7 separate regions of the Homo sapiens genome follow, and all the other regions are reported to be linked to region 1. The links are microRNA targets in miRTarBase. Many come from high-throughput screens and were not tested one by one. Region 1 holds a microRNA gene; each other region holds the end of a gene's coding sequence.
The links. The annotated mature microRNA hsa-miR-3663-5p reads GCUGGUCUGCGUGGUGCUCGG and lies in region 1 at 2,923-2,943, opposite strand. An mRNA with a match to its seed (bases 2 to 7 or 8) in the 3' UTR can be bound and repressed. Matches are read on the target gene's strand: a 7mer-m8 pairs with bases 2 to 8, a 7mer-A1 pairs with bases 2 to 7 and ends in A, and an 8mer does both.

Region 2: the mRNA of THRA is a reported target of hsa-miR-3663-5p. Seed matches in the 3' UTR shown: 7mer-A1 at 2,825-2,831, 8mer at 1,899-1,906 and 7mer-A1 at 217-223.
Region 3: the mRNA of NUBPL is a reported target of hsa-miR-3663-5p. Seed matches in the 3' UTR shown: 7mer-m8 at 2,438-2,444.
Region 4: miRTarBase lists CCDC90B as a target of hsa-miR-3663-5p. Seed matches in the 3' UTR shown: 7mer-m8 at 3,101-3,107 and 8mer at 2,523-2,530.
Region 5: the mRNA of SBNO1 is a reported target of hsa-miR-3663-5p. Seed matches in the 3' UTR shown: 7mer-m8 at 2,958-2,964.
Region 6: miRTarBase lists HAUS2 as a target of hsa-miR-3663-5p. Seed matches in the 3' UTR shown: 7mer-m8 at 3,208-3,214, 7mer-m8 at 2,906-2,912 and 7mer-m8 at 2,765-2,771.
Region 7: miRTarBase lists PAN2 as a target of hsa-miR-3663-5p. The part of its 3' UTR that is shown has no 7-base or 8-base seed match.

Annotation. Positions count from the first base shown.
Region 1 is chr10:117,164,812-117,168,877 of GRCh38, forward strand. MIR3663 (microRNA 3663) reads right to left here and starts at 2,963; the gene lies at 2,867-2,963. It overlaps MIR3663HG (MIR3663 host gene), which reads right to left. Exons shown (of 3, transcript NR_121651.1): 1 at 4,049-4,066. RefSeq lists an enhancer at 782-1,336.
Region 2 is chr17:40,088,867-40,092,932 of GRCh38, reverse strand. It overlaps THRA (thyroid hormone receptor alpha), which reads right to left. Exons shown (of 9, transcript NM_199334.5): 9 at 1-3,727. The coding sequence ends at 3,477. NR1D1 (nuclear receptor subfamily 1 group D member 1) reads left to right here. Exons shown (of 8, transcript NM_021724.5): 8 at 1-140. Among named protein-coding and RNA genes, the nearest start is that of NR1D1, 9.7 kb to the left of the region's middle. RefSeq lists enhancers at 1,091-1,717, 1,718-2,343.
Region 3 is chr14:31,858,480-31,862,545 of GRCh38, reverse strand. It overlaps NUBPL (NUBP iron-sulfur cluster assembly factor, mitochondrial), which reads right to left. Exons shown (of 11, transcript NM_025152.3): 11 at 1,322-3,428. The coding sequence ends at 3,366. Among named protein-coding and RNA genes, the nearest start is that of LINC02313, 84 kb to the left of the region's middle.
Region 4 is chr11:83,258,179-83,262,244 of GRCh38, forward strand. It overlaps CCDC90B (coiled-coil domain containing 90B), which reads right to left. Exons shown (of 9, transcript NM_021825.5): 9 at 903-3,788. The coding sequence ends at 3,733. It also overlaps a transcript of ANKRD42 not described here. Among named protein-coding and RNA genes, the nearest start is that of CCDC90B-AS1, 26 kb to the right of the region's middle. RefSeq lists a silencer at 1-23.
Region 5 is chr12:123,292,174-123,296,239 of GRCh38, reverse strand. SBNO1 (strawberry notch homolog 1) reads left to right here. Exons shown (of 32, transcript NM_001167856.3): 32 at 190-4,066. The coding sequence ends at 332. Among named protein-coding and RNA genes, the nearest start is that of CDK2AP1, 22 kb to the right of the region's middle.
Region 6 is chr15:42,566,347-42,570,412 of GRCh38, reverse strand. HAUS2 (HAUS augmin like complex subunit 2) reads right to left here. Exons shown (of 6, transcript NM_018097.3): 6 at 419-3,806. The coding sequence ends at 3,597. Among named protein-coding and RNA genes, the nearest start is that of STARD9, 7.2 kb to the left of the region's middle.
Region 7 is chr12:56,314,214-56,318,279 of GRCh38, reverse strand. It overlaps PAN2 (poly(A) specific ribonuclease subunit PAN2), which reads left to right. Exons shown (of 26, transcript NM_014871.6): 25 at 1-43; 26 at 637-1,344. The coding sequence ends at 671. CNPY2 (canopy FGF signaling regulator 2) reads left to right here and starts at 2,292. Exons shown (of 6, transcript NM_014255.7): 1 at 2,292-2,459; 2 at 3,038-3,150; 3 at 3,314-3,429. The coding sequence starts at 3,063. It overlaps CNPY2-AS1 (CNPY2 antisense RNA 1), which reads right to left. Exons shown (of 2, transcript XR_002957416.2): 2 at 3,472-3,751. RefSeq lists enhancers at 1,939-2,088, 2,169-2,218, 1,719-2,307.

The DNA of each region.
Region 1 (4,066 bases):
TGAAAGGCTATAAAAGCAACGCCATACATTGGGATGAAATTAGACAGCGACAAAATCATTACCTTGACTTCCCACAATAAAGACAACCTTAAAAGGGGGCTATTGATGGTTTCAAATTACATAACGGTGGTTTATATGTTCTTCCTCTGCGCTCACAGAAAGCAATTTTAAAGTGTGAATTCTTCAAAGAACGGGCAAAGCATTCACACACAGACATGCGTTTTTATTTTATGTATTGCAAAGCGCTATGAGAGAGAGAGAGAGAAACCAAAAACAAAAATCCCAGCAAAAGGAGGCCGAGTCCAAAGAGAATATGTCCGGTTTCTATTTCACCAAGCTCCTGGACTCACATTTGGCCCCGGAGCCGAGTGCTCGGTCTCTTTCCCCGGGACGGGACAGGGAGTGGAGTTCCTAGCCCCTTGGGTGGGAAAAGCCCCGCGCACGTCACCGGGTCCCGTCTGCTCACTGCTTCTGCATATTTTAAGCCTGGACACAGCCTCCTTTAGGATAGAAAGGCATTTCCCAAACAACACCGATTCTGGGGGTGTAGTGGGCCTGGCGCTGGGTCCTGGAGAGAAGGTTCAGCCCCCCTTCTCATCCCTGTACTTTGGGGATGGCTCGTACTTGGACAGGGGTGGGCCTCCGCCTTCTCCGCCTTCTATCGGACCTTTCTTCGGATGGATTTCTACGTAAACTCGGAAGGCGATCAAATGCAGGCGGCCAACCTCCAGCGCTTTTTTTTTTCCTCTCAAAGGCGGCGCCTGCATTTTTGGGGGCTCCAGCCCAGGCTGAGAAAGTCCCCTCAAACCTCTACTCTGAGGTTGCTCACACGGCCTGCAAAAACCCGACGGGGCACCCCGCCACCCCACCTTACGTTTCCCTAGGGCCAAGTCAGTGGTCAAAAACCAACCCGGTGGTAGCTGCCTTTACCAAGGAAAGACAGCCAGGACGCCCGCACCGACGGCAACGCGCGGACAGAGAGGACCGTGCCCTCTTTCGCATGTTACGGGGCGAGGGGGCTGTTGGCGTCAGGAGCGCCCTGGGAGGAACTTCGTAGCGGATTCGAGAGACAGAGGGAATTCAGCAAACTTGCTGCCCCGGGCTGCCGGCTGGAGCCCGGCAGATTCGCTGCGCAGCACTGCCCCCTGGTATCCAGCGCCGAAAGTGCCCCCCTCCGCAGCTGCAAGGCTCCTCCCTGGGCTGCGCGGGACAGATTTTTTCTCCTTTCCTGGCTACACGCCTAACAGAGAAGCTATCCCGAGGGACCTCAAGAAGTCCCCCCAAGCCGTACTCAAAAGCCTTTCTCCCTCCTCCTCAAGCGCTCACTTCCCCAAAGAGGACCCGGACCCCTGACTGCCTGAGCCAGGTCCCCAGCATGGTCCGCAACCCTTCTCGACTCCGGCATCCACCTCCAGGCTGACGTCTACCCGGGAGGGGGCTGGGGACCCAAGGAGACTTCGACTACAGGCCCAGGCGAACGGAAGGAAGAGGCTTGCGTTCAGAGAGACACGTTTGGAGCTGGGACTGTTCATTCTTTAAGGAACACCAGCTTCCAGGGCATCTTTCGTTGGCACCTTGGCTTTCCAGAGAAGAAAGGAAGTGGGTATCAGGGCCAGCCCCTCCTCGCACCCCAGGCTGGAGAGGTGCCGAGGTGCTTAGTCACTCAGTCCAAGGGCACCTGAGAGATGGGGGCAAACTTGGCAGGAGCTTGAGCACGGAGGCGTGATCCGCGGGGGGCGCAGGCAGGGCGGGGCCCAGAGCCCCCTTCCGCCAGCCCAGCCTGCCCCTTCCAACCCAACTTGTCTGGCACTGGCTTCTACGGGTGCCGAGAAGACTGCTGTCGTGGGCACAGGGTCCTCGACCCCAGGACGTGCGTGGCCTTTCCCACCCCAACCGGATGGTTTGTCCCAGGCTTTGAGACTGAGCTTGATAGAGAGGTAGGAAGGAAGCGGCGCCAGCTCCGGAGCCAGAGTGGGTTGGAGTCCCAGCTTGGCCACCCTCTAGCTGTGTGACCTTGAGTGAGTTACTTCGCCTCTCTGAGCACCAGTTTCTTTGTTTTTTTTTTTTTCAGGAATGGTGTGAGGATTGAGGTAATGTCCTTAGGATGCCCACATGTGTTCAGTCAAGGTCGGTCGTGATGGTTGCCGGCGTCCGCTGCAGGAAAGGCCCCCAGGAATCAGCTTGTAGGGTGGGCGCCAGCCGGTACTGCACAGGGGCATCGCGGCCTCCGGTTTTAGAAGGGGCAGAAACAGCGCAGTGTCCTCAGCCCTGAGGGCTGAGTGTTGGAGGTCCCGACGCTCCTGGGTTCTCTTCTGCCCGGGTGCAGACTACAGCAGGTGCGCAGGGCTTCGCACACCTCTGCTGTGGGAAGTGAGTCATCTTCGCTTATGATTGCATCTGGCCAGGCCAGCTACGAGAACACTGGGCCTCACAGCTGCCACGTATCCAGCCTTAACCTGTGCCAGGCACTGTGCTAAGAGCTATGCACCCACAATCCCACTTCTTCACAACAGCCTCGACCGAAGTAGATGTTTAAGTTTTTAAATTTCCATTTTACAGAGCAGGAAACAGACTCAGAGAGGTTAACTTCCCCCAAGATCACACAGCTGGTAAGTTGGAGAGCGGGGACTTGAACTGAATCTTCCTTGGAGGCCAAGCTCTGAACCACTAAGTTGGGTGGCATTAGAGAGCCAAGCTCTCGCCCTTCGGTTTCCATTCACGCTACCCTCTCTGAGCCGCAATTCTCTCTCCTGCGTTGGCACTGGCAGAAGTTGAGACACGCTCCCAGGAATCGCGGGCCGTGGCGCGTACTTCCACGCACCCCAGCTAGTTCCAGAGACTCAGCTTGTTCTGAGATCCTCTTGTCGAGCCCCCTTGGTCCCGGCGCCCGGCCTGTGTGGTGCTCAGATCAGACTTATCCACCCGAGCACCACGCAGACCAGCGCCTGGACCAAGGTCCCGGGAAGGAAGCCCTCCTCCCCTTCTCCTGTGGCTTAGCTCAGCGATCAGGGAGGAGCCAGTTAAGAAGTCACAGTCGAAGCCATGACTGCTGTGTCCCGGGGAGGCAGTGGAAGGCGAGGAGCACGGAGCGGGGATACCGCCGGACAACCCCTCCCCGCCGCCCCGTCGGCGTCCTCGCTGCGCAGGGGCTCCCTTGCTGCCCCAATCTAAAAGGAAGCCGTCGCGGCCCAGGGCACGGTAACTAAAAGGCCGTCGGGGAGGGAGACGGGAATGAGTGGGCTTGGACTTGAGGTTTCCGAGCCAGCTGCTCCCTAGAGCCGTTCCTGAGCTCGTCAGCCAGCACGTATTTAATGAATGGCCACTGGGTGCTAGGCCTTGCACGCAACCCTTTCGTCCTCCCCCGGGGCTGAGCCGAGGGTGACCCAACACTAGTCGGAACGAGCCTGGAGACATGGCGCCGGGGCTGCGCTCTGCAGGCCTGGCCTGGTCGCTCTCCACGCACCCCTCTCTCTGTAGCTGCCGCCCCGCCCGGCTCTGCCTGTGGGCGCCCCCTGGCGGCAGGAAGCCGAGCGCGCACCACGCCCTCGGGGCTCCATCCCCACTCACCCCGGCGCCTCTAGCCGCTCCACCCGCACCCCCAGTTCGCGCTGCGGCGGCCAGCCTCTTCCCCGACGGCCGACCGAATGTCCCTCAGAGCTTTCCGTGACCGGCCAGGGCGCGTGGCTGTCCGGAGCCCCTCCACGTTCCCCAGCAGCAGGCCCGGCTCTCTCTGATCAGCGAGCGCGGATGCCGGTCTCCTCCCTCCCTCTGCCGGGCTCCAGCCCGACGCCAGGCCGCTGGGGGCAAGCGCTGTGCTTTGGAAGAGGAGAAAAGCCCCAAATAAACAAAAACCCAAAGCCCATTCAAGTTCAGGGGTGGAGAACTGTTGGCATCTGAATTTTAAAAAGATCGCCGGGACTCCCAACCACCACCAAACACCCTCTTGTCCACCCCCCCCCGCCCCCGACACCATCCCACCCCACACACCCCACGCCCGCGTCCCGTGAACCGAACCGCCAATGCGCCGCAACCTTCTCGGCAGTCACACCTGTGTCCCCGATGCCAT
Region 2 (4,066 bases), not on the chromosome of region 1:
TTCTTGTAAATACCTGCCTCCCTCCCCCATCACCGAACTTCCCCTCCTCCCCTATTTAAACCACTCTGTCTCCCCCACAACCCTCCCCTGGCCCTCTGATTTGTTCTGTTCCTGTCTCAAATCCAATAGTTCACAGCTGAGCTGGCTTCTGTGGTGTGTGCTCGTTTGGGGGGTGGGGTGGAAATACTGCCAAGGCTGGGGGGGGCCACCTCTCCATCTGGTCAGTTTGTGGGGTGGGTACTCTGCCAGCAGATGGGAGGATATAGGGAAACAGCACACAAGTCTAAGGGGGGTGCCCAAGGGGGTTATTTTCATCATATATTTATTACATAAATATATAGTAAAATAGACGAGCAACAATTACCATAAAAATATCTTTCTTTAAAATCCTGACCCAAAACACAACGGGGTGAAAAATCGCACATAACAGACATACTGATTGTCAACGTGGGGCAGGAGTAGGAGCCCCTCAAGTCACCCCTGCCGGTCCCACCCCTCCCTGGGGAAGAGACCTACCTCCTTCCCTGTTTCTGGCCACAACCCCCCTCCCCCCAGCCCAGCACCAGCTTCTCATACATTCAGTAGCGCCTCTGGGCAGTGTCCCCCTCCCCCCCGCCCAGGAGTTCCCAGGGCAGGAGTTACTGTCCTCCTTATGGACGGTCTCTCTCTCACAACGCCCTGCCCTCTCCCAGCCCTGCAGACCCGCCACCAGGAGAAGGGGTAGGGGCTCCTCCCCCACCCTCCCCAAGTCTGAGCAGGGAGGAGGCTGGATGAGGTATGTGTGTTATGAGTGATGGGAGGGGCAATACTGAGATGGAGAGGCGGGTGGTGGGGGCGGGGTAGTGGTCATGGCTCTGGCAACCCCTTGTCCTGGCCTGGCCCCCTCGTCCTATTCCCAGCAACCCGTCCTCCCACCGATACTGCACCTGCTGCTCCACCCTGCCTGCCCTAGTGCCCCGGGCCAATACTGGGGGAGGCATGCTGAGCACCCACATCAAGGCCATCCCCCTCATTAGCACCAATGGCCCCCAGGAGAGGGCCCTGTCCCCCACTTCCACAGCAGGGACTGGGACAGCTGCCGCTCTAGAGCAGGTGCGTGGCACTCCTGAGTCGCCCTGGCTCCTCCCCTACCATGTGTACTCACTCACACATTCACGCAGAGGAACGCACACATACACCCCACATCACCGAGGGGGAAGGGAGGGGTCCGGGGAGGATGGGATCACAGCTCATATGATTGGGGAGGGTGGGGGAGTCCCAAGTGCCTATAAGAGGCTAAGGCTCTTCAAGGCCTTTTCTCTGCCGTGTCCATGGCTGAGAATGGGGATGGAGGGGTTGGGGTGGGGATGGAGGGATGGGGAAGACAGCAGACAGGTCAGGAATTCCACTGGGCCCCCAGGCGTGGTAGGAAGGTACAAGAGGGCCTACCCATGGGACTGGAGTAATACAGGATTCAGTACTCCAGGAGAGAGAGAGAGGATAGAGACAAAGACAGCGCGGGCAGCCCGAGGCCCCAGCAGGGTGGGACAGGCACATGCACAGGTGACAGCGGGTGCTCCTCCAGGCCCTCCACCCCTGTTGGAACACCTGAACGATTGGGGAAGGACAGTGCCCTGACGGGCAGCATAGCATTGCCTTCCCATGTCCGTGTGTGCATGTCCGTGTGTGTGTGTGTGTGTGTGTGTGTGTGTGTGTGTGTGTAGGGGGCTGTGGCAGGCTGAGGGTCAGGGTGGGGTGGCAGGTTCCCCACTGCTTAAGACATTTTTGCCCCAATAGTGCAAAGCGCAGGAAGCCCTGGCACCCCTCCCCCCACCCCCTGCCCCAATCCCCATGGCTTCCGGGGGCATCTGTGTCCACCCATCCATCCCTGCCGACATGCAGCCCTGAGCCCAGCACCCTCTGGTCTGCTCTGTCCCACCCCACCTCCTGCTCCCATGGGAGGACCACCTCCTCTCTCCCTCTCTCCCCTGAGGAGTGGGCGGCAGCCACAGGGAGGGGGAGGAGGACAGCTCACCCAAGTGCAGACCAACAGAGCACCCTCACCAGGAGGGCGAGAGGGGCTCAAGCCAAAGTCCCTGAATTAGAGAAAAGAAGAGGGGAAGGGGTCCCGGGGCAGAGGGGCAGCTGGCCAAAAGAGCTTTAAAGAAAAAGGAGCACCGACCACCCCTCCCCTGGGGCCCCAACTAAGTGTCACTTATCTAAACACCCCCATTCTGGTACCTGCCCGCCCAGAGTTAGTGCAGTGAGTAGGAGCTGGGGAGGAGGGCAGAGGTTAGAGAGAGCCCAGAAGACAGATGGGAAACAGGGAAACAGAGTGCTAAAGGGGTGGAGGGTTCTGGGAGACGCTCACGCACAGCCCTCCTACCCCCGACCCAACCAATGCAGCAGCATCCGGTTTCTAGCTAATACTGCAGGATATAAGGAGGGTAGGAGTTGGAGCCACAGTTTTTTCCTGGGTGGGTGCCAAGGTGTGGAAGGAGGAGGTGGATGGGGAGAGGCCCCTAGGGCTGGGCACTTAAAGGGGAGCTGTGTGGGCAGCAGGGCAGGCTGGTGAGGGGCCAGCTGGCATCCAGCATGAGAGGTAGATGGAACTCAGCGGGCACGAGTGGCAGAAAGCAGAGGACATACTAGGGTTGGGGGGTGCCAAAGGGGCACAGAGGGCGGGGTATGGCAAGGGGGGTGGCCAGGACCCTGTTGTGTTAACTCACAGCTCTGATCGGCAGCCCTACCCTTGGGGCTCTGGTGTGGGGGCATTTCTCTCTGATGTGGGGGAAGAAGGGGCAGCTCGCAAAGTGCATGGGGTGGTAAAGGGGGGGTCCTCCCCTCTGGTCAGCCTCAGTTAATAACTTAATATCATCTCTCTCTATCGCTCGCTCTCTCTTTTTTGTATTTTTCTCTCTGTCTAGTTTTTCTTCATTTGTCTTCTCCCCTTGCTTGGTTTCCAAAGTGCAGTTAGAATGACTATAAATTTTAACCTCCAGAGGAGGAGCCAAGCCAAGCCGTTCTTTGCACCCAGGCATCTGGGGAAGTAGAGAGGCCCTCAGCCTGGAGGGGAGACCTAGGCCAAGGAACTGGGTGGGGGCTCTCTCTCATGTGTGTGTAGGGGGTGAGTTGAGGGCATCTTCCCCCAGCCCACATTCCTCCTTCCCCTACGGTCAAGGTGGCTTGTCCCTTCTCAATCCTCCCGCCCTTCCCCTACCTTCTGAGAGGATGGGGTCCTGGGAACTGCAGGACACAGCTCCCCCAGCCTCCCACACTGTCCTTTCCATAGCAAGTTCAGTTGTTTGCCCTGTCCCAGGGCTGGAGGTCTGAGGAGGGACCTGGGCAGTGCGGGTGTGTGTGTGGGAGCTGAATCTATCCAAGGACGAGAGGAAGGAGAGAAGGGGTGTGGGGGGGTCTCCCTCAGCCCCCAGCTCTGCCCCTTCTCTCCAGGCTCCTCCCCACCAGCTCCGCACACCCTCTGGCCGCCTGAGGCTTTAGACTTCCTGATCCTCAAAGACCTCGAGGAAGAGTGGGGGGAAGAGTTCGGTGGGGCACTCGACTTTCATGTGGAGGAAGCGGCTGGCGTGGCAGGCCCCGATCATGCGGAGGTCAGTCACCTTCATCAGCAGCTTGGGCCAGAAGTGCGGAATGTTGTGTTTGCGGTGGTTGACGTAGTGCTCGAACGCCAGCAGGTACGCCTCCTGACTCTTCTCGATCTTGTCCACACACAGCAGGCCCGAGCGGTCTGTGAGGGAAGAGGGGCGTGAGGGGCGAGGGGCTGGCCGAAGGCCTGGAGATGGGGAGGGTGAGGTGTGGGGACGTGGGAAGAAAGGACTAGAGGGGAGATAGAGGCAGAGAGGCTGGGGGAGGGGAGGGGAGAAGCTCCCCCTGAGAGACGTGGACAGGAGAAGCACAGGGAGAGGGAGGCAGCTGGGAAGTGGAGAGGGGCAGGGGGGTACTGGGGGGAGGGGGCAATGCAAGGAGGACAGAGGGACAGGCCGGGGGCTGGGGGAGAGAGAGGAGCCTTGGAGTGGGGAGGACTGAGGTTGGTGGTCAGAGAGGCGGGGTGCAGATGGGGTTAGGG
Region 3 (4,066 bases), not on the chromosome of region 1:
CTATACCTATTCAAATAAACATGCTTTTTTTCTTTAGTCTGTTTTGCTTTACTGTTTCTTCTTGAATCTGCCATACATTGATTGATGTTCAAATGTTGAACCAACCTTGTGTTCCCAGGAAAATGACCTTGTAGTCATATGTATTATCCTTTTATATAATGCTGGATTCAATTAAGTAAGATTTGTTGAAGAATTTTCTGTCTATGTTTATGAGGAACATTTGTCTGTATTCTTCTTTTCTTGTATTGTCTTTGTCTTTGGTTTGCATATTAGGGTAATGCTGGCTTCACAAAATGAGTTGGAAAGTGCCCCCTCTATTTTCTGGTAAAGTTTGTGTAGAACTGGTATTATTCCTTCATTCAATGTTGGGTAGATTTTGACAGTAAAGGCATCTGGGGCTAGAGTTTTCTTTGTTGGTTCTTAACACAAATTATATTTTTAAAAGTAATTTATGACTACTCAGTCATAAATTATATTAAAGGAATATATCTATTCCATAAGTGAGCTTTGGTAGTTTCTTTCAAAGCATTTGTCTATTTCATCTAAGTCTTCAATTTAATGGGCATAAAGTTGTTTGTAATCTTTCTTATTGTCCTTTTCATGTCTGTAATAATGTCTCCTTTTCATTCCTGATTTGTTGATTTATGTCATCTTTCTTTCTCTCATTTCTTAATGAGCCTGGCTAAAGGTTTGCCAATTTTGTTCACCTTTTCAAAATATCAGTCTTTTATTTACACTCTACTGAGATGTGAAGAATGGAAAATAAATATCACTCCTTAACAAACAGGCAAACTACCTGTACTTCAGTCTACCTTTGGAGTTGGTGGCAAAATTTTAGAATAAGCTTAGTTCTTGTTTTATAGCTACTGTTCCTTCCTCCATGTCTAAACCTGCATATATATTCCAACCGCCATTTGTTTCAGTAGACTTCCTTGAAGCATCTGCAGACAACAGTCAAAAGAAGGAGGAGAAGAGGGCAGGGAATTTTATATGTGGATCTTCTCTCGGTCATGTATTTATGAGTAAAGACCACCTTTCCCATTTCCCTATGATATGTATTAAATGGTGACATACAACTTTAAGTCATTCTTTTTTGAAAAAAGTTAAGTTTGGTTTAAGTATTTTTTGTATTCACAAGTGCTCAATGATCATCTATATTTTCTTCTTCCTCAACAGACAATAAATACACAAAGAATATCTGAAACTTTAAGTCATTACTTCCTTCTCAGAGTGATATGATTACAGTGTGTCCACAAATAATTTTATTCATGATATTAATTAGTATAATTTGGTCCAGTAAATTTCAGTTCAGATATAGCAGTTTGTGTTTTTTTAACTTTTATTTTTATTTTGAGATAATTGTAGATTTACATGCAGTTGAAATAATACAGAGATTCCATGTGCCCTTCACCCAATTTCCCCCAGTGGTAACATCTTGCAAAACTATAGCACAATATCACAACTGGGATACTGACATCGATAGCTGTGATATAGAACATTTCCATCATCACAAGGATCCCTCATGTTTCTCACAGCCACGCCCAATTCTCTCCCATCCTCACCCCCTCCTTAACACAGCCACCACTAATCTGTTCTCCATTTCTATAATTATGTCACTTCAAGAACGTTATATAAATGGAATCTTTTGGTACAAAACCTTTTTAAATTGGCCTTTTTCATTCAGCATAATTCTCTGGAATTATAAGTTGCTGCCTGTACCCATAGTTTGTTCTTTTTTATTGCTGAGTAGCACTCACGGTATGAATGTACTATGGTTTGTTTAATCATTTACCCAATGAAGAAAATCTGGGTTGTTTTTGGTTATTACACATAAAATTGCAATAAACATCAATGTACATGTTTTTGTGTGAAAACATGCTTATAATAATGTGAAACTCTATGCCTAATTTTCTAGTTGACAACTGTAGAGCAACAGATGTCAAGACATTTGCCAAAAGTGACAGACCACTTCTTTATAAATGCGAATTAACTAATGGCTCACACTTATCAGTACTTGCAGCTTTAAAACTATCTGCTACCTGACTTTGAAAAGTCATTGACTCTATCTCTTTGAGCTTCAATTAGACAAGATAAATGTTTTTCAAAATGTATTATTTGAAATGTGAACTTCATGAAATGCTCTGAAAAAGGAGGGGGGTGGTGGATTTCATGGCCAAAAAAAGTTTGAGGAAATGCTAAATATTGCATCTCCCCCGACTTTTTTTTTTTTTTTTTTTTTTTTTGAGATGGAGTCGCACTCCATTGACCAGGCTGGAGTGCAGTGGTACAATCTCCACTCACTGCAACCTCAGCCTCCCGGGTTGAAATGATTCTCCTGCCTCAGCCTCCCGAGTAGCTGGGATTACAGGCATATGCCACCACACCCAGCTAATTTTTGTATTTTTAGTAGAGACGGGGTTTCACCATGTTGGTCAGGCTGGTCTTGAACTCCTGACCTCATGATCCACCCACCTCAACCTCCCAAAGTGCTGGGATTACAGGCGTGAGCCACCACGCCTAGCCACCACCGACTTTTTTTAATTAACAAAAGCACATTGGTGTACAAAAAGATGAATCTAATATCGAATTACTCAAGTTCAAATCCAAGCTCCATCACCTGCTAGATACAGTAACCCTCAGCAAGACACTCAAGGTTGAGTGCCTTCAAATTATATCTCAAATTACTTATCTGTAAAATGGAGATAATAGTACCCACTCACACAAATGGAAGAACAATTATAATTAACTTGTTAAATGTTAGCTATTATTCTTACTGCCATGATTACCAGAATCATCATCAACATCATCATGGTCTTACTAAAAATACATATGTTCAGGCTCCACTCCTGGAGACTGAAATTCATTAAGTCTGGGGTATAGTGTGATCCAGATGAAGAAGCAGAGGTTCATATTAAGAACATGTCCAAGACAGTACCAAAGACAGGATTCAAAGACAGTCCAAATTGCCTGGTGGGAAGGCGTAATACTTATGCCCATACACAAATTTAGTATATCATTTAAATTACTAATTCTGTGGTCCTGCAAAAAGTGTACAGTTCTCTCCCAAAATGGACTTGTAACATCATAAACTCGTGATTTCTAAAGGGGTAATTCAATAAAATAAAATGCAGTTCTTTGCAGGTGGTACACACCAGCTTTCAAAAAATTCCTAAATATAGCAGTTAACATTGATACATCAAAGTTTTGTGAACCTTAGCTTAGCAAGTCAAATATGAAGACATTCTTTCCTTAGAAATAAAACAGTTATGATTTCTATTATTTCTGTAGGTTCCATCACCACATTGCTGATTTCCAAAGGTCCTCTTAATGTCAGTACCAGGCAAATTTCCAGGACACTTGGGGAATCATTCTGAAGGTGATGGCAATCTTCTTACCACTTCCACAGCAATCCTCAAGTAAGCTTTGGCCTGGAAAAGAACAAACTTATTTGTTCTGTATTTCTCTTCAGCAGACATTGAATGACTCATCAACTGTTTGTTATAGAGGCCCACTGTATTTGATAGTAAAAAGGCTGAGTGAGATGAGGAAATTCAGTATTGAGAAGATAGTGCTGTATATATTGCAGGCGGCACAAGGAAGAAAGAATTTTAGATTATTTGGAGGGTAATTATTTGGAAGGTGACTCTGAAGTAATATTTAGTACCAGAAATTACTGTTTTTCAAATTCTAATTCTGGTGTCAGCAAACTAGCAACCCAGTCTAGTTGCAGAGAGATTACACCTTTTTGCTCTGAAAAATTGATATATTGAGTTAGAGACTGCCAAAACTTCTTTAGCATAAGAGCTGTTAGTCATTTTAAGGAGGACTATTTATTACCATGCTACAGTTTATCTTAGGAAAGCATTTTCTTCATCTCCCCGAGAATGGTGTGTAATACCAGCACCAAGCACCTATAGGCTCTTTCACCTGGTAAAAAATGGATATCATGCAAAAAATCCTAGTTCCATTGTTACACTCTTTATGTCTGGGATCCCAGTGTCATGGGACACTAACAGCAGCTCTTAAGCCACAGAGTGGGCCACAAGCTAACCTAATGCCTGCATGG
Region 4 (4,066 bases), not on the chromosome of region 1:
TGCTTACATTGGACTGTAAGAGAGAAATAAACCTAATCTTATTTAAGCCACTGCTATTCTGGATCTTGTTACAGCAGCTAAATTAAAATTATAATACAATTCCCAAATTGTGTATATTTATTCATAAATCATATACCTATATTATTGACACATTTAGGTTAATGAAACAAAAAAAAAAGGTTATTAAAGAGATTTAAGTTATTTTGTTCCTATGACTTAGTAGATTGTCCATCTCATGAGAAAGAGTACTCAGGTTGAACCCTACTAGTATATTGAGTGACAGCATGAGAGGGTGAGATTTGGAGTTAAAGACTTGAGTCCCTGTGACTTACTTGCTGGGGGACTGTGGACAAGTTACTTCACTTGGCTAAACTTGTTTCTTCAGCTGTAAAATGAGGATACCATCTACCTAAGAGGAGAGCTGTGAAAATAGGTGAGCACATATATGTTATTTAGCATATTTGCCCTCATATAGTCAATGATAGCTATTTTTTTTCAAAATAGCAATCAGTAGTTTCAGTGATAATGACTACAGCCTTTCCCACTGCCCTTTTTTTAAATATTAAAAAATACTTAAAAAATAAACAAGTGTTACATATCCAAATTCTTCAAGTTTGACAACATTATAAGCTTTTAATTGTTTTTCCAATAGGTGAGGGTTTTTCCTGACTCTTGCCAAGTCCTTACATACTCTTGCCTGGCCTATTTTGTCACCAAAGCAGTATGGATAGGCAGGTTAGGATCTACACTGTGGCTATAAACATGGTGAAAGTAGCTAATCCTTGTGGAGGCTTCTTACCACTCATAGAAAATGCCTAAAAGGTGTATTACGCTCACTCAGTATGAATGCAGTATTTTCAGCATACCCATAATTAAATATTTAAAATATTAAAAAGTTTGGATTAAGGTCAACTGAGATTTATGAGTATCATTTATTCCACAGGCGTTTAACAAGTACCTCACATGTGTCTAGAGGCCTTCTGAGAACTTGTAGTTTAGTGTAGGAAAAAGATACGTATAATTGCTGTTTCATAGTGAAGTGCAAGTGCTGGAATAGAGGTATAGTTTTAAGGCATATAGAAACACAATCCTCTCATCCTTATTTCATATATTTCCATCACTGAAACAAAAATTTACCTGAACCCCAGAACCACCATCAAAATGAAGTTTCATGGAAAGGATATAGGATCTAAAAGTAATGGGGACAGGGTATGGTATGCATATTTCTATTCTTCTGTTATTGGATACAAAGCACTTTGTTTGCTAAACCCCTACAATGAGAAAGAACGCAGATCTATTTAATATTTAGTGGCTGTATAACCTGGGAATAAGTATATTTATTTGTTGGGGCTTGAGAAGGTCCAATAAATGGCATACCTCCTTTCCATTCTGGGTTGTGAATATAACTAAGATGAAGAATGAATAAACTAATATAGAGGCCTAAAAAACACCTTTATTTGCTGATAAAACTATTGGAGAAGTTTTTTTTTAGGAGACAGGGTCTCATGTGTTGCCAGGCTGGAGTGCAGTGACTATTTATAGGTATGATCATGGTACACTTTAGCCTTGATGAACTCCTTGGCTCAAGCAATCCTGCTGCCGCAGCCTCCCAAGCAGCTAGGACTATAGATGTGTGCCACTGTGCTCAGCAAGAGAATATGGGTTTCATCTTAAGGCCAGTAAGCTTCTTATCACTGAACTCTAGAACTGGACAGATTTACCCTGTCTCAAGCATTGCTCTACTGGGCCAGGCCTCATCCTGCAGAGGCAGAGCCTGATCCCATAGAAGCAGAACAGAATGAATGTCTCTTCAGATGGGCTGGTCCCAAACAGGAGTGGGGAGGAAGTGGGCTAATTGCACCTTGTTTCTCCTTCCAGATTTACAATTGGGCAAGTCACTTTACCTAGGGCAGAGTGGATAAGGGGATGAAGAGTGACGACAGTGTTATGCTACTGGAGCTTCCTTCACATGGAGGAAAGACGCATTCCCTCTTAATATTTTAGAATATTTTAAATCTTAACAAACCAATAATTTACTTGTTTATGTCTCTCTCCTTAAGATTGTCAATTCAATGAGAATGAAACCATGTTCATCTCTGTGCACACAGGGACTAGCATGCTGTTTGGCATATAGCAGGCAGTCATATTGGTTAACTGAACAAATGCAGTATACTTTGTTACAGTGGACTTTAATATATATGGTAACTTATTAATTGACTCAGTGAAAATTAATCTATAATATACTAAGAACTCTCTTAGGCAATAGAGATAAAAATGAATCAGAATGTAACAGGATAATGTCAAGGTTTTTCTTTTGAAAACAAACCAGCAGTTAGATTTTTGAGGAAAATATAGTTGGAAAGCCTGACTCTCACTCACTGGACCATATGGACCAATCTCTTGACTGCTCTATACTGCAGATTCCCTGTTTATAGCTAAACAAATGACAAGGCTATTTTGAATAATGATTGTCAAACTTTTATAGCTATTACCAAGGCATTATGAACTCAAAATGTTTACTTTCTGGTCTTGTCTTCTTGATCTGGGTAAGACTGAAGAACTAAGATGAAAAGGATATTTTAAAATTTCTTTGAAATTACATATGATTTACTAATAGATATTACTTTGTAAGAAAAAATATATCTAATAACAAAACAAAATACGAATTTAAATTTTCCTATGAGTTTCTTGAGAGTAGGTACTAGATATCAATGTTTGCTGAATTGAAGTCATTAAGAAAAGCTTTGTTTTATGTAATAAATTTAAGATGGGTTAACTTAAACTACATTAAGAAGCAGGGATAAACTGGTTTTTGAGTATCAAATATTTAAAAAATACATGTAATAATCAGAGCTCAATATTTAGCAACTCTACAGATTTCATATTAAGTGTTGTAATTTGCACTAAAGCACACATTTATTTATTTAGGTAATGGAGTCTTGCTCTGTCACCCAGGCTGGAGTGCAGTGGTGCTATCTCGGCTCACTGCAAGATTCTCCTGCCTCAGCCTCCCGAGTAGCTGGAATTACAGGCATGTGCCACCATGCCTGGCTAATTTTTGTATTTTTAGCAGAGACGGGGTTTCACCATGTTGGCCAGGCTGGTCTAGAACTCCTGACCTCAAGTGATCCACCCGCCTCAGCCTCCCAAAGTGCTGAGATTACAGGTGTGAGCCACCGCGCCTGGCCTATCATTTTAAAATTTATTGTTTTAGTTCATTACCAAAAAGAAATCAATCTCCAACTATATGGTAAGTCACTTTGAAAACCCACACAACTTTGTTGTAATAATCTTTCATTTTATAGAAAAATGTAATTATGCAATGGTTATCAGGAAAGTTAATTCAGTAATAAATATGTAGGCTAGGGAATGGTTTACAAATATTCAACCAATACCCACAAAATCCTGTATGATTTACACAACTGTTCAAGCAAACATAAGAAAACTCTGGTTCAATTTCTATTAACTATCAAAAGGACAAAATGCTCTTCTATCTCAAACCAGGTCTGAGTGACAGCTTTTCAATATAATAAAGACACACACCTGCACTCACACACACACAATAAAGACACAGTATCTCTTCTCATTCTAAAACACTTCCTCTTTTAGTCCGTATACACTTCGAATAATCTTGTGTAGTAAATTTTTGCTGCAACTGACAATGTTCAAAGTAAATCTCTCCCGGTTTGGTGTTCTAAGAAGCCAACAGCCACAGCAGGATGAGCATTAATACTACTTCCAGAATCTATAAAATCCCAATGCTATTGCCAGGCAAGTAAACACCGAAGCTGTGAAAAGAAGAAACTGTGTTATAGGTCTTGTATCTGTAATTATTTTGCAGAGATAAAGAGAATAATGTTATCTTTAAGTGAAGAGCAAAAAACAGGAAATCCAACCAATTTTCTATCCTATGTTTTTTATTCCCTAGACAATTAAGTATGAAAGACATTCTTAAGGGCAGCCTTAATGCCTAATTCTTCTTAAAAGCACCTGTATATTAAAATGTAAATTATGTCATTTAGAAACCTATAACCTGTATTTAAAATCATTAACGCTAGCATTATTG
Region 5 (4,066 bases), not on the chromosome of region 1:
GTGGGAAATGCTGTGGAAGAATCAGACTACATCTCAATGGCCATTTCATTTATTAGGTAGTCGTTTAATTTTTGTGTGAACTTCTTGTCCATTACGCTTAATATTATGCCTCATTTGGAATCTGCTGTGAAGCTGTACAGTGTGGTTTCTTCTGGACACAACTTGATAAATTCTTGTTACTAATTACAGGTTTGATCATTCCGGCAAATTGTGTGTCTCCTCTTGTAAATCTCCTATCAACTTCAGACCAGTCTCAACAGCTTGCGGTCCAACAGAAACAGCTATGGCAACAGCATCACCCTCAGAGCATCACCAACTTGAGCAACGCATGAAGAACAGACAGGTTTCAACATGGATGGATCTGAAATGCTGTTGAAGCATATCATTTGCATAAAAATCAGGGACAGTTTCCAAAGAATTATATATTTTTTTCAGTTGTGCTCTCTAGTTAGTTTTTTTGGGAGTAAGGACAAACCTGGAATAGATAGCAAAACTGAAAATCAGCAGTGCTGATGGTGGTACATATGTCTTTCCTTTAGCTTCTCCCCTGATAATTCCCATCTGCTTTTACTTCGGGTGAGCAGAGGGGGATGTGTGTGTGCGTGTGTGTCAGTCTGTTTGTGAGTGTGTTAAAGGCTACAGACCACAGTTGGTTTAAAATGCTTGGAACTTCCCAAACTGGCTTTACTTTATGTTTATACAGTGCTCAGGGTTAACGCAGTACATCCATGCCATTGCTGTGGGAGGTATCCCCGGATGCATGTGTTTTGAGTCTATAAATATAGAAAATATATATTGGTTTCTTTTTCCAACTTAATAGGTTTATTAAAGCATGAAATGAAAGGTTGCATATCATGCATTCAGGTTATTTTCTAATTTTTGTTCTGACAGTGCATGTCTTTGGAAGCATGCTGAAACAAGATTAACACAGGAGTCGAGTAACAGAGAGAAACATTTGTTAGATGTACAGCATTGGTTATTGCATTTTTATAGTGTTTATACCTGGGTATTGCTTCAAACCCTGCAGACCCCTCCTTCCCCTTCTCCCTGCCCTGGGTTTCTGGTCAAGGTAATGAATACATACATTTTTCTGTGATAAAACTCTTAAAAGTTAATTTTAATGTATTAATAGTATTCCTAATGTGTGCTGCAGAAATGGCTATGAGCCTCTTAAATTTACATTTGCAACTTAAAGGTAGTTTTAGAAGGAAGTACAAATTGGCTTTCATCTTGCAAACAATCGTTTTTTACTTCATTATCTTAATTTGCTTTGTCACTCATAAAAAGGAAACCATACCTGAGTTGTAGACAATGAGGAAACACTTGAGGCTTCTGCTGTGTGTTCTTTTGTTATTGTTGTTATTGTTGTTACTCAGTAACTTGAATATTGTTTAATGTGTTGTAAGACGTAGAGTTTATCTCAAGCTGTTAAAAATGGTAATGTACAAATGTGAATAGACACTTATCTATATAATATGGGTAAGTTTTGTTTCGCCTATAATAGATGTTTATAAAAACAAGTGAGGGGACAGTTGGTCTTTTTATCTTTTCTTTCTTTTTCTTTCTTTTCTTTTTTTCTTTTTTTTTTTTTTTTTTTTTTTTTTTGCTTCCACAGGTTGCACTATTGAAAAATCGAGATTGTATAAACCTGGTAAAAAGCTGCAAGATGCCAAAATCTTGTAGATGTCAAATAAAAAGTTATTATACTAACAAGAAGTGGACTCTTGTTTAGGCCCTCACTGGTGACCTTCAGAAGTAGTCTGTGACGGGGACTCAGCAGAATTTGTGTGTTGTCTCAGCATTCCAGGTAGCCTTATAGTTTGGCTTAAAACTTATCCCTAAAATGTAAGATGGCATTGAGGGAAAGGGTATAATGATAGTACTTCTGAATGTTTTTTAAGTTGAATTGTTTGTAAACTTCTTGCAGAATTGGGTGAGATGTGTGTTAAAACTGACAAACCTGGCTGAAAGCTTAGGGCGTTCATCCTCTTGTGTCTCCTTTAGCCTGAGTTTGGTTATGTCAAGCTTACCGTAAGTTTTCTTAGGATTTATTTATTCTTGGTGCCTAAAAGAATAAATTGAAAGTACTTTCTGTTCTTTGGCACATTTTGCCCAGCGGATGCAACTTCTATCCTCAGTCCAGTTCATATATCTCAGGCAGTGATCCATTTTGTATCAGCCAGTTTCCCTTGTTAGGGCCGCTAGACCCGGCTGGCAGCCAAGAGCAGCACTCTCCCCACCTTCAGCAGAACTTCTCAGCTCATGTGTGTGTTTTTAAAAGCAGTAGGCAGCTTCCATCAGCAATGGAAGTGTCCCCCACTCCAGTGGTGGAGGTGCAGTCGCTGGACCTGAGGAAGTGGGGAAGCATTACAAACCCTCCTGCAGTAAGAATGGCAGAGTTGGGAAGGATCTTCTCTCGCAGGCTGTTGGCCCAACTCCTCTTTTCTGTGTATGAGGGCATCTTAGTTTTTTATGGCGTTTTCAAAGCAGCATATGAGGATTCTTAGCATGCAGCTAAGTGACAACCCCCATGGCCTATGATGTAATGTTTGCTCTGGACTAGCCATCTTGATAAATAGGAGTGTATGTATCTTAGGTTCTTTGTAGAACAGCTATTTTTTTTTCTCATTAAAAAGGCCTCTGAAAGCCCTCTCAAAATGGACCTCACAAAGGCAACCAGTGTGAATGGATGGGAGCTGGGGTGCTGCATGCCCAGGCTGGTCATGGTGTGTGCAGCACCCAGAGAGTTGCACCCACCCCTTCTTCAGGTGGACATCCGACCTTTACACTGTGGTCTTGCAAAAATCAGCGAGTTAGTTTGGCCGCCCTGTGAAGCTTCAGCATTCAAGGTCCTCTTCTGTTAAAACCCAACTCGTAGCCGGGCGTGGTGGCTCACTCCTATAATCCCAGCACTTCGGGAGGCCAAGGCAGGTGCATCACTTGAGGCCAGGAGTTCGAGACCAGCCTGGTCCACATGGCAAAACCCCATCTGTACCAAAAAATACAAAAAATTTGCCGCTGACTTCTGTAAAATAGGTCCATTCATTGCAGGATCTAAATGCCACACCTGAATTCAGAGGCCTTGTTTAATTAACCCCATGTCCACTTTGCCTCTGCAATGCCTTTTTCTTTTTAGCAATATGGCTCTGAGCACAAAGATTTGGTTGGAAATCATGTTCGTGTTTTCAGAGTTTACAGCGTCAATTGTACTGAAAACCACTTCCAGAGTCTAAAGCAGCTCAGATGTTATCTCTGGGGGAATTAGTGTTCCCCTCATTTAGCAACCTCCATACCACAAGGTCTCTGTCTGTAGTTACTGGGATTATCCAGATACACTATCAATGATACAAATTCATAGGAGTATTAATGCATTTCTTTAAACACAACTTGATTAAGAAGCAAATATGTTAAGCAGTTTTCTTTTTCTGCTGCTAAATTACAGTTAGACACTTCAGTATCTTCTCTTTACATGTGTATATAAATTAGTAAGAACCTGCATCCAAAGCAATGTAGTGTGTGTATGTATCTATATATATTTATTCTAACTCAGCACTTCAGAAGCCTTTTTGAGTTACAACAATATTTTAGTTTGCCTCATCTGTAGAGGTAAAATTTCTATATTACCAAGCTCCAGAGGAATATGATATTTTACAGGCACAATTTTCTGGCTGTAGTCCCTGGGGCATTCATTTGCTGGCCTCCATGGGATGCTGTTAGAACAATTGTTAGCCGGCAAGAGAAGAAAGGCTACCAGGACAGCATTTATAATTGTAGAATGGGAGCCTTCTTCCCTCTCCCCTCCACTTTCATTTTAGCATGAGATAAAAAAATAGATTGGAAATGATTGTTGCATCTCACTTCATGGAAGTAGGGGCAGAAGTTCCCTCTGGATCCTTTTCTTGACAAGCAGTCAAGAGGAAGGTCCCCATACACATGTACCTGTGTGATACTTGGTAGTTTCTAAGAATGGTGCTACATAAGCGTTGCTGTTAGGCTGGGATCCTATTAATGAACGTTTGATTAGTTCAGGCCTCCCAATGGCAAAGGCAGACACCGTGGAGATGGA
Region 6 (4,066 bases), not on the chromosome of region 1:
AGTTAGCTGGGTGTGGTGGGGCACAGTTGTAGTCCCAGCTACTTGGGAGGCTGAGGTGGAAGGATCCATTGAGCCCAGGAGGTTCAGAGTGCAGTGGGCTATGATTGTGCCACTGCACTCCAGCCTGGGTGAGAGCAAGACCATCTAAAAAACAAGAACAACAACAACAACAAAAAAAGGCATGCAGAGCTAATTTTTTTTTAATATCCACACATCTAAAAGTTGAATAATTAAAGAAAAATTAATCAGCACTGATTGACTCTGGAAGAGTATTAAATTAGCTTTCTCTTTGAAGTAGACCTCAGGCTTAACTTACCTCAAGCTCTTTTGATTCTGAGAGCCTATATGCCTATACTGTATAAGTTAAACAGTGCATCAGTCCTTTCTATCACTTTAAATTCAGACTAGGACTAAAAAATTTTAGTTAGAAATTACAAGTTTATTTTTATATTTTGAAAAAGGCATAATAGAAAACAAAAATAAACAACCAGGCATATCAATATTTGTGACATACACATACACACAAAAATGAATATAGGAAATAACACGAAGAAAAAGCATAGTATGTTTTGAAACCAACGTGGGGTATGAACAGATTTTTGATGAAATACAACTAAAGGTTTTAAGTGTCTATGTAATGTTCGAGATATTACGATCACTCTTATCCTACTAGCAAAAATTAGCAAACTAGGCTTTAAAACATGATTCCTGTTGTTTTAGCAGGATTTATTTTGGTAATGATCCTGCTTCCTTATAAACAACTACTTATCATTGTTGAAGTCTTCTTGTGTTAAGGAGTACAATGAGGCCAGGCGCAGTGGCTAACACCTGTACTCCCAGCACTTTCGGAGGCTGAGGCGGGAGGGTCGTTTGAACCCAGGAGTTCAAGACCAGCCTCAACAACATGGCAAAACTCTGTCTCTACAGAAAATACAAAAATTAGCCAGGCGTGGTGGCGCGTGCCTATAGTCCCAGCTACTTGGGAGGCTGAGGTGGGAGGATCACTTGAGCCTGAGAGGTCAAGGCTGCAGTGAGGTCAAGATTGGGCCACACCACACTCTCAGCAACCTGGGTGACAGAGTGAGATCCTGTCTTTAAAAAAAAAAAAAAAAAAAGGAAAGAAAAGAACAAAACAAAAAACAAAACTGATGTACATGTTTTAAAGCAAAATAGAACCCCAAGTCTAAAAGTAAAATAAGCCAAGGTTAGTTACAATACTGATTAAAAAGAGTATATCCTGAGGCAGTTGTTAGTATATCACTCTCTATTATATGCACAATAACCTCTGATAGGTAAAATATCTGAGCATTTTGCAAGGTAAACCTCCAAAGTTATACCACAGTGTGCCTTTTTCTTTGCTGTTTCTTCTTTGCCTATTCCTACAGCTACCAGTAAACACTTAGGAACTGCTTTGTATGCCAGGGTCTCCAAGACTACCTCCAGGTTCCATGATTTGCTAGGAGAATTCACAAGACTCAGCATATCATCACACAGCTATGATTTATTACAGCAAAAGCATATGAAGCAAAACAGCAAAGAGAAAAGGTACAGAGGCAAAGTCTGGGGGAAACCAGGTATAAGCTTCCAGAGTCCTCTAACAGTGGAGTCACACATATCTGTTGTTTCATTCCACCAGCAACTGAATTGTGACAACATGTGAGAAATGTTGTTTACCAGGGAAACTTGTTAGAGATACAGTGCCCAGGGTTTTTACTGGGGGCTGGTCACGTAGGTACCTTCTACCTACCATGTACCAAAATTCTAGACTCCCAGGAAGAAAGCAGGTTTTCAGCACAAACCACAGGTTAGCTACCATGAACGACTCTTTTCAGTGAGTGGAGCCCTCCTGTTAAGGTTTAAATATGTCCCCCAAAGTTCAAGTGTTGGAAATTTAATTGACATTGTAAAAGTGTTATGAGACCTTTAAAAAGTAATTAGGTAAGGAGGGCTTTGCCCTCATTAATGAATTAGTGCTGCTATCTTGGGAGTGGGCTCATGATAAAAGGCTAAGTTTAGACCCATATATCTTTCTCATGCTCACTTGCCATGTGGTGCCTTCTGCCATGGCAAGACCCTCACTAGATGCTGGCACCATGTTCTTGGACTGCCTAGCCTCCACACCTGTCAACCAAATAAACTTCTGTTCATTATAAAATACTTAGTTTGTGTAATTCTGTTATGACAGCAGAACAGACTAAGATACCTTCTGATATCTAAGTTCCCAGATGCAACAGCTGAGGACAAACCTTATAATCAGGCCTTTCAAAGGATAAGTCAGGCTGGCTGTGTTACTCTTTTCTGCATACTTAGTGACATTCCCACAGGAATAATCATCATAGACATTTTCAGATTCAAGAAGACCCTTCTAATTCAGAAACACCTTTTTTTTTTTTTTTTAAGACAGAGTCTTGCTCTGTTGCCCAGGCTAGAGTGCGGTGGCACGATCTGGGCTCACTGCAACCTCTGCCTCCTGGGTTCAAGTGATTCTCCTGCCTCAGCCTCCTGAGTAGCTGGGATTACAGGCACATGCTACCATGCCTGGCTAATTTTTGTATTTTTTATTTTTTTGGAGATGGAGTCTTGCTCCATCACCCAGGTTGGAGTGCAGAGGCACGATCTTGGCTTACTGCAACCTCTGCCTCCTGGGTTCAAGCGATTATTCTGCCTCAGCCTCCCAAGTAGCTGGGATTACAGGCGTCCACCACCATGCCCGGTTAATTTTTTATATTTCTACCAGAGATGGGGTTTCACCATGTTGTCAAGGCTGGTCTCAAACTCCTGACCTCAGGTGATCCACCCATCTGGGTCGGCCTCCCAAAGTGTTGGGATTACAGGTGTGAGCCACTGCGCCCGGCCTAATTTTTGTATTTTTAGTAGAGACAGGTGTTTCGCCATGTTGGCCAGGCTGGTCTCGAACTCCTGACCTCATGATCTGCCCACCTAGGCCTCCCAAAGTGCTGGGATTACAGGCGTGAGCCACCGTGCCTGGCCAGAAACACACTTCTTTTTTTTGAGACAGGGTCTTACTGTGTCGCCCAGGCTGTAGCGCAGTGGCGTGATCATGACTCATTGCAACCATGACCTCACAGGCTTAGGTGATCCTCTTACCTCAGCCTCCCGAATAGCTGGGACTACAGGCATGCACCACCATGGTCGGCTAATTTTTTGTTTATTTTGTAGATATGGGATTTCACCATGTTACCCAGGCTGGTCTTGAACTCCTGGGTTTAAGTGATCTGCCCGCCTCAGCCTCCCCAAGTGTTAGGATTACAGGTGTGAGCCACCACACCAGACGATAAACACACATTTTTAAAAAAAGAGAATTTCCCACCTGAGAAATGGTTAATTCACTTATATTAATAAATTGTCATGGCTATTTTTTAGCTTCTCTAGTTTTACTGAAAGGTAGAATAAAAATATATGAAAAACAAAGGAAAAGTCAGTTTGGTCTTAATGAACCTGAGATCTTGATACTCCAATATAAAGCAGGTTCTTTCAGTATTACCAGCAGCAAAGACTATTAATACCCATGTTACAGTCAACTAGAAATAGACTTCATATGACTACACATAATTAAGCAAAAATAAAGTTGATGACTACTTGGCATTAATAGTTTGGACATGAACTTTAGAAGTAAAAGGTAAAGGAGGCATTATAATATCATGTTTATAAAGATAACTTTCTTCAGCTAATATTTTGGGGATACAAGACGAAACTTCGTTTTGTTGTTTACGCCACTTGAGTATATTCTCTGCCAGTTCTTCTGTCTCAGTCACCAATATATCCATCTTTGCTAAAGCCTGGTTCTGTAACATTTGAAAAGGGAAACAGGAGAAATTATGTCTCTTATTAATTCATTATATCATCAGTAACTGATACCAAAGGTTAACACATGATCTTTTTCCAGCCCCTTACTTCAAAAGCTCCTTAAAACTGTGCTTTCCCACTTCTTACAGTACAAACCTACTCTTTGTGAGTTCAACTCTTTTGTCTTCAATAATCACTCAATGCAGATGACCCTCAATTTATATTGCTAAACCTAACTTCCTTCCTAAAATTCAGGCCC
Region 7 (4,066 bases), not on the chromosome of region 1:
GACTGGAAGGTGCCTGAGCCTGAGGGCCAAACAAGTCCCAAGAGTAAGACCTGGGATGGGACAAGGGAAACTGGACTGGGTGGATTTTGTATTTTGTTTGTTTGTGACAGGGTCTCACTCTGTCACCCAGGCTGAAGTGCAGTAGCGTGATTACAGCTCACTGCAGCCTCGACTTCCTGGGCTCAAGTGATTCTCCCACCTCAGCCTCCCAAGTACCTGGGACAACAGGCACACACCACCACACCCAGCTAATTTTTGTACTTTTTGTAGAAACAGGATTTTGCCATGTTGCCCAGGCTGGTCTTAAACTCCTGGGCTCAAGCGATCCACCCACCTTGGGCTCACAAAGTGCTGGGATTACAGGCATGAGCCTGAGCGCCCCCAATTGGGTGGATTTTGATTGCACATATGGAGAATAGCACTTAACAGTTTACAAAGCACTTCATCCTCCTAACATTCAGTAAAATACATTTTATCGAAACTCTCCATTAACTATAACTTCCTCTTGCCCAAGTCTAAAATGTTCAGGGAAGGTCCATGCCCTTTTTTCTCTTGCATTTTTCCTTCATAGGAAGTATGAGAAGATGCTTTTTCTCCACTCAGCTTGAATCATGCTTTTGGTTTTGTCTCTGACAGATGCAGCTGTCTTCTCCTCAGTGCTGGCGCTCTGACTACCCTTCCCAAAGAACCACGGCCCTCTCCCTTTACTGTTCTATAGCCCCAGAACTGGGAGATGGCTTCCTAAGTTGGCTATACCTTGTCCACTTCCAGTACTGGACGTGCTCAGGGTCTAGGGTCACAGATGGTGCTATTAATTGAACTGGAACACAGCAGAATTGTTGCAAAGGTTCTAGGAGCCAGATTCATTCCTTCTTCATTCTTTGCAAAACAGTGGTACAGACATGGAGTCTAGAATTGACCCAGATGGAAAGTAATTGGTATTCTTAATATCCTGGGTGACTAATATCCAGGCAGAGAAGCTCCTGGAACCATAACTGTAAGTTCCTAGCTGGCTAGGGATTGAAGTCCTGGACAGTGACAGAGGATACCACAGTAGTTCAAGACTTAGCACAAGTCACCAACTGCTTCAGGGATACCTGGAGGGGCCAGCAAGTAGAGTGTTGGTGGCCCAAGCAAACCAGTGTTGCCAATACCATTGCCAAAAGGGCCTTTGGATCCTGGACAAAGCTTGGCTGCCGGCTTCATTTATTCCTGCTGATGGCTGAGAAGCATCTGTCTTCCATCCCACTTGCCTGTCCCAAGTTTTGTTCCATTTTTTAAAAATTTGTTGTAAACTGCATGTTTTATAAAATAAAAATAAAATATCGTTTGTTATTTATCTCATTAGAGAACTGCTAGTGTGGGTTCTCTGGCTTCAGTCTTCCTCTCCTTCCTTTGAAGGTAAAGGTCCGGAATCCAAAGTTATGGATATGAAAGGGTATAATTAGGCCGGGCGCGGTGGCTCACTTCTGTAATCCTAGCACTTTGGGAGGCAGAGGTGGGTGGAACACGAGGTCAGGAGTTAAAGACCAGCCTGACCAAGATGGTGAAACCCCGTCTCTACTAAAAATACAAAAATTAGCTGGGAGTGGTGGATGGCGACTGTAACCCTAGCTGAGGCAGAAAATTGCTTCAACCCGGGAGGCGGAGGTTGCAGTGAGCCGAGATCACGCCACTGTATGCCAGCCTGGGCGATAGGGCGAGACTCCGTCTCAAAAAAAGGGGAAAAAGGTATAATTTATGCCTTTTCTGGGCAATGCTGGGTCTTTGCTATAGCTGCCCAGTACCCTAAGTCAGACTGAAGATGTACAGTATGGTTTCCGTTAATTGTGTAAGCCGACAAACTACAGGTCCCAGGATAGCTTGAGACTTGTAGTTGCTCACAAAGATGGGTCCGGTGCTGCGGTGCTTCCTGGGAGATGTAGTTTCCTGTGTATTGAAACCTGGACTGCTCGCTGGCCGGCAGCGCACCGTTTTGAAGGTCCTAGCCCACCTGGGCTGGCTCACGCGCACGACTAGCCGCTCCCATACAGCACGCCCGGACTCTGTCGTCGCTTAAGGCCACTCCTATTCTACGGCTGACCCCTGGTGGTCACGTGGATCTGTTCGCCACGCAAGTCTGGGTCCTTCGGCGATTGACCGGGGTCCTTGCTGTTCGGGAGCCTCTCCTAAGCTGCCTGTTCGCGCGAGAGTTTGGAGGGGCGGGTTTGGGGTCGGTGTCTGATTGGGGCTCGCACCGCAGCACGCTGGAGTCCCGCTTAGGTACCAGTTAGCGTCAGGGGAGCTGGGTCAGGCGGTCGCCGGGACACCCCGTGTGTGGCAGGCGGCGAAGCGCTCTGGAGAATCCCGGACAGCCCTGCTCCCTGCAGCCAGGTGTAGTTTCGGGAGCCACTGGGGCCAAAGTGAGAGTCCAGCGGTCTTCCAGCGCTTGGGCCACGGCGGCGGCCCTGGGAGCAGAGGTGGGACGGATGCGGGCGGCGAGGCGCTGGGCGCTGAGGGTTGGGGATGGACTGAAGCGAAAGCAATGGCGGAGTCCTTAGAAAGGGGGCTGGTGTCCGTACGGGTAATCACTTACGGGCTGGAGGTGGGGACGCAGGAATCTTCGGTGCAGGATCCAAATGGGCCCTAGTTATTGCTCTCCTCGCTGGCCTCCTGGCCTGACTGAGGGCTCCCTGCCGGCAGTTCCCTAGTGCCTGTAGTCCTCACGTAATCGCCAACTTACCTCCTGTAGCTGCCACAAAGCCCCGTGAACCCTAGGCATGCAGTGCTAAAGTACCAACACTTAGGGCCTCACCTATCCACGTAGAGTCTGGGGCTGAGCCGCAAGTCCTGAGCTCGCGCTCCCACCCACCACCCTGGGGGAATCAGAGCCCTCAAGCGCTGGAACAGAGAAGCCCCTTTGTGTCCCGGCCATTTCCTGGAAAGTAGAGCCAGAGTCACAATGAGGCCTTTGAAAGCCTTGGGGTGAGGATTGGGGGGGTCAGGGAAAAATGGAGTCGGCTCCTCACACTTATGTTTTATTCCCACTCAAACCCAGGTGGAGCGACCCCATTACGCTAAAGATGAAAGGCTGGGGTTGGCTGGCCCTGCTTCTGGGGGCCCTGCTGGGAACCGCCTGGGCTCGGAGGAGCCAGGATCTCCACTGTGGAGGTAAAGGCACAACGGGAAAAAGAAGTGGAGGAAGCAGAGCCTTGGGAGGGCATGAGATCCAAGGCCTGGGAGAAGGATGAATGGAAATCCTGGGTTGATCCCATTCTCCTCACACCCTACCCCCTACCCTGTCCCCTGCTCTCATTCTCTCCTCTTCCACCAGCATGCAGGGCTCTGGTGGATGAACTAGAATGGGAAATTGCCCAGGTGGACCCCAAGAAGACCATTCAGATGGGATCTTTCCGGATCAATCCAGATGGCAGCCAGTCAGTGGTGGAGGTAACTGTTACTGTTCCCCCAAACAAAGTAGCTCACTCTGGCTTTGGATGAAATTCGACTGCTTAAAAAGGACCTTGGTTTAATAGAAATGAAGAAAACAGACTCAGAAAAAAGATTTGGCTCTGTCTCATTTGGAAGAAGCTGCAGGCTTATTCCCCATGCACTTGCTTCCTGGCTGCAAACCTTAATACTTTGTTTCTGCTGTAGAATTTGTTAGCAAACAGGGAGTCCTGATCAGCACCCTTCTCCACATCCACATGACTGGTTTTTAATGTAGCACTGTGGTATACATGCAAACATCCGTTCAAAATCTGAGTCGGAGCTAAAAATAAAAAATGAAAAAACAGAAATAAGAATAAAAGGTCTTATCCTCATAATTAGGAAATTTTAATCGAAAACAACACACATGTACACAAAGGTGTATCTAATAAGCAATATATAAGGCAGTGTTAAGATTACAGTGCTAGCCTGGGCATCATGGCAAAACACCAACTCTACAAAAAAATGCAAAAGTTAGCAGTGCATGGTGGCATGTGCCTGTAGTGACAGCTGCTTGGAAGGCTGAGGTGGGAGGATCACTTGAGCCCAGGAGGTCGAGGCTGCAGTAAGCCGTGATTGTGCCACTGCACTCCAGCCT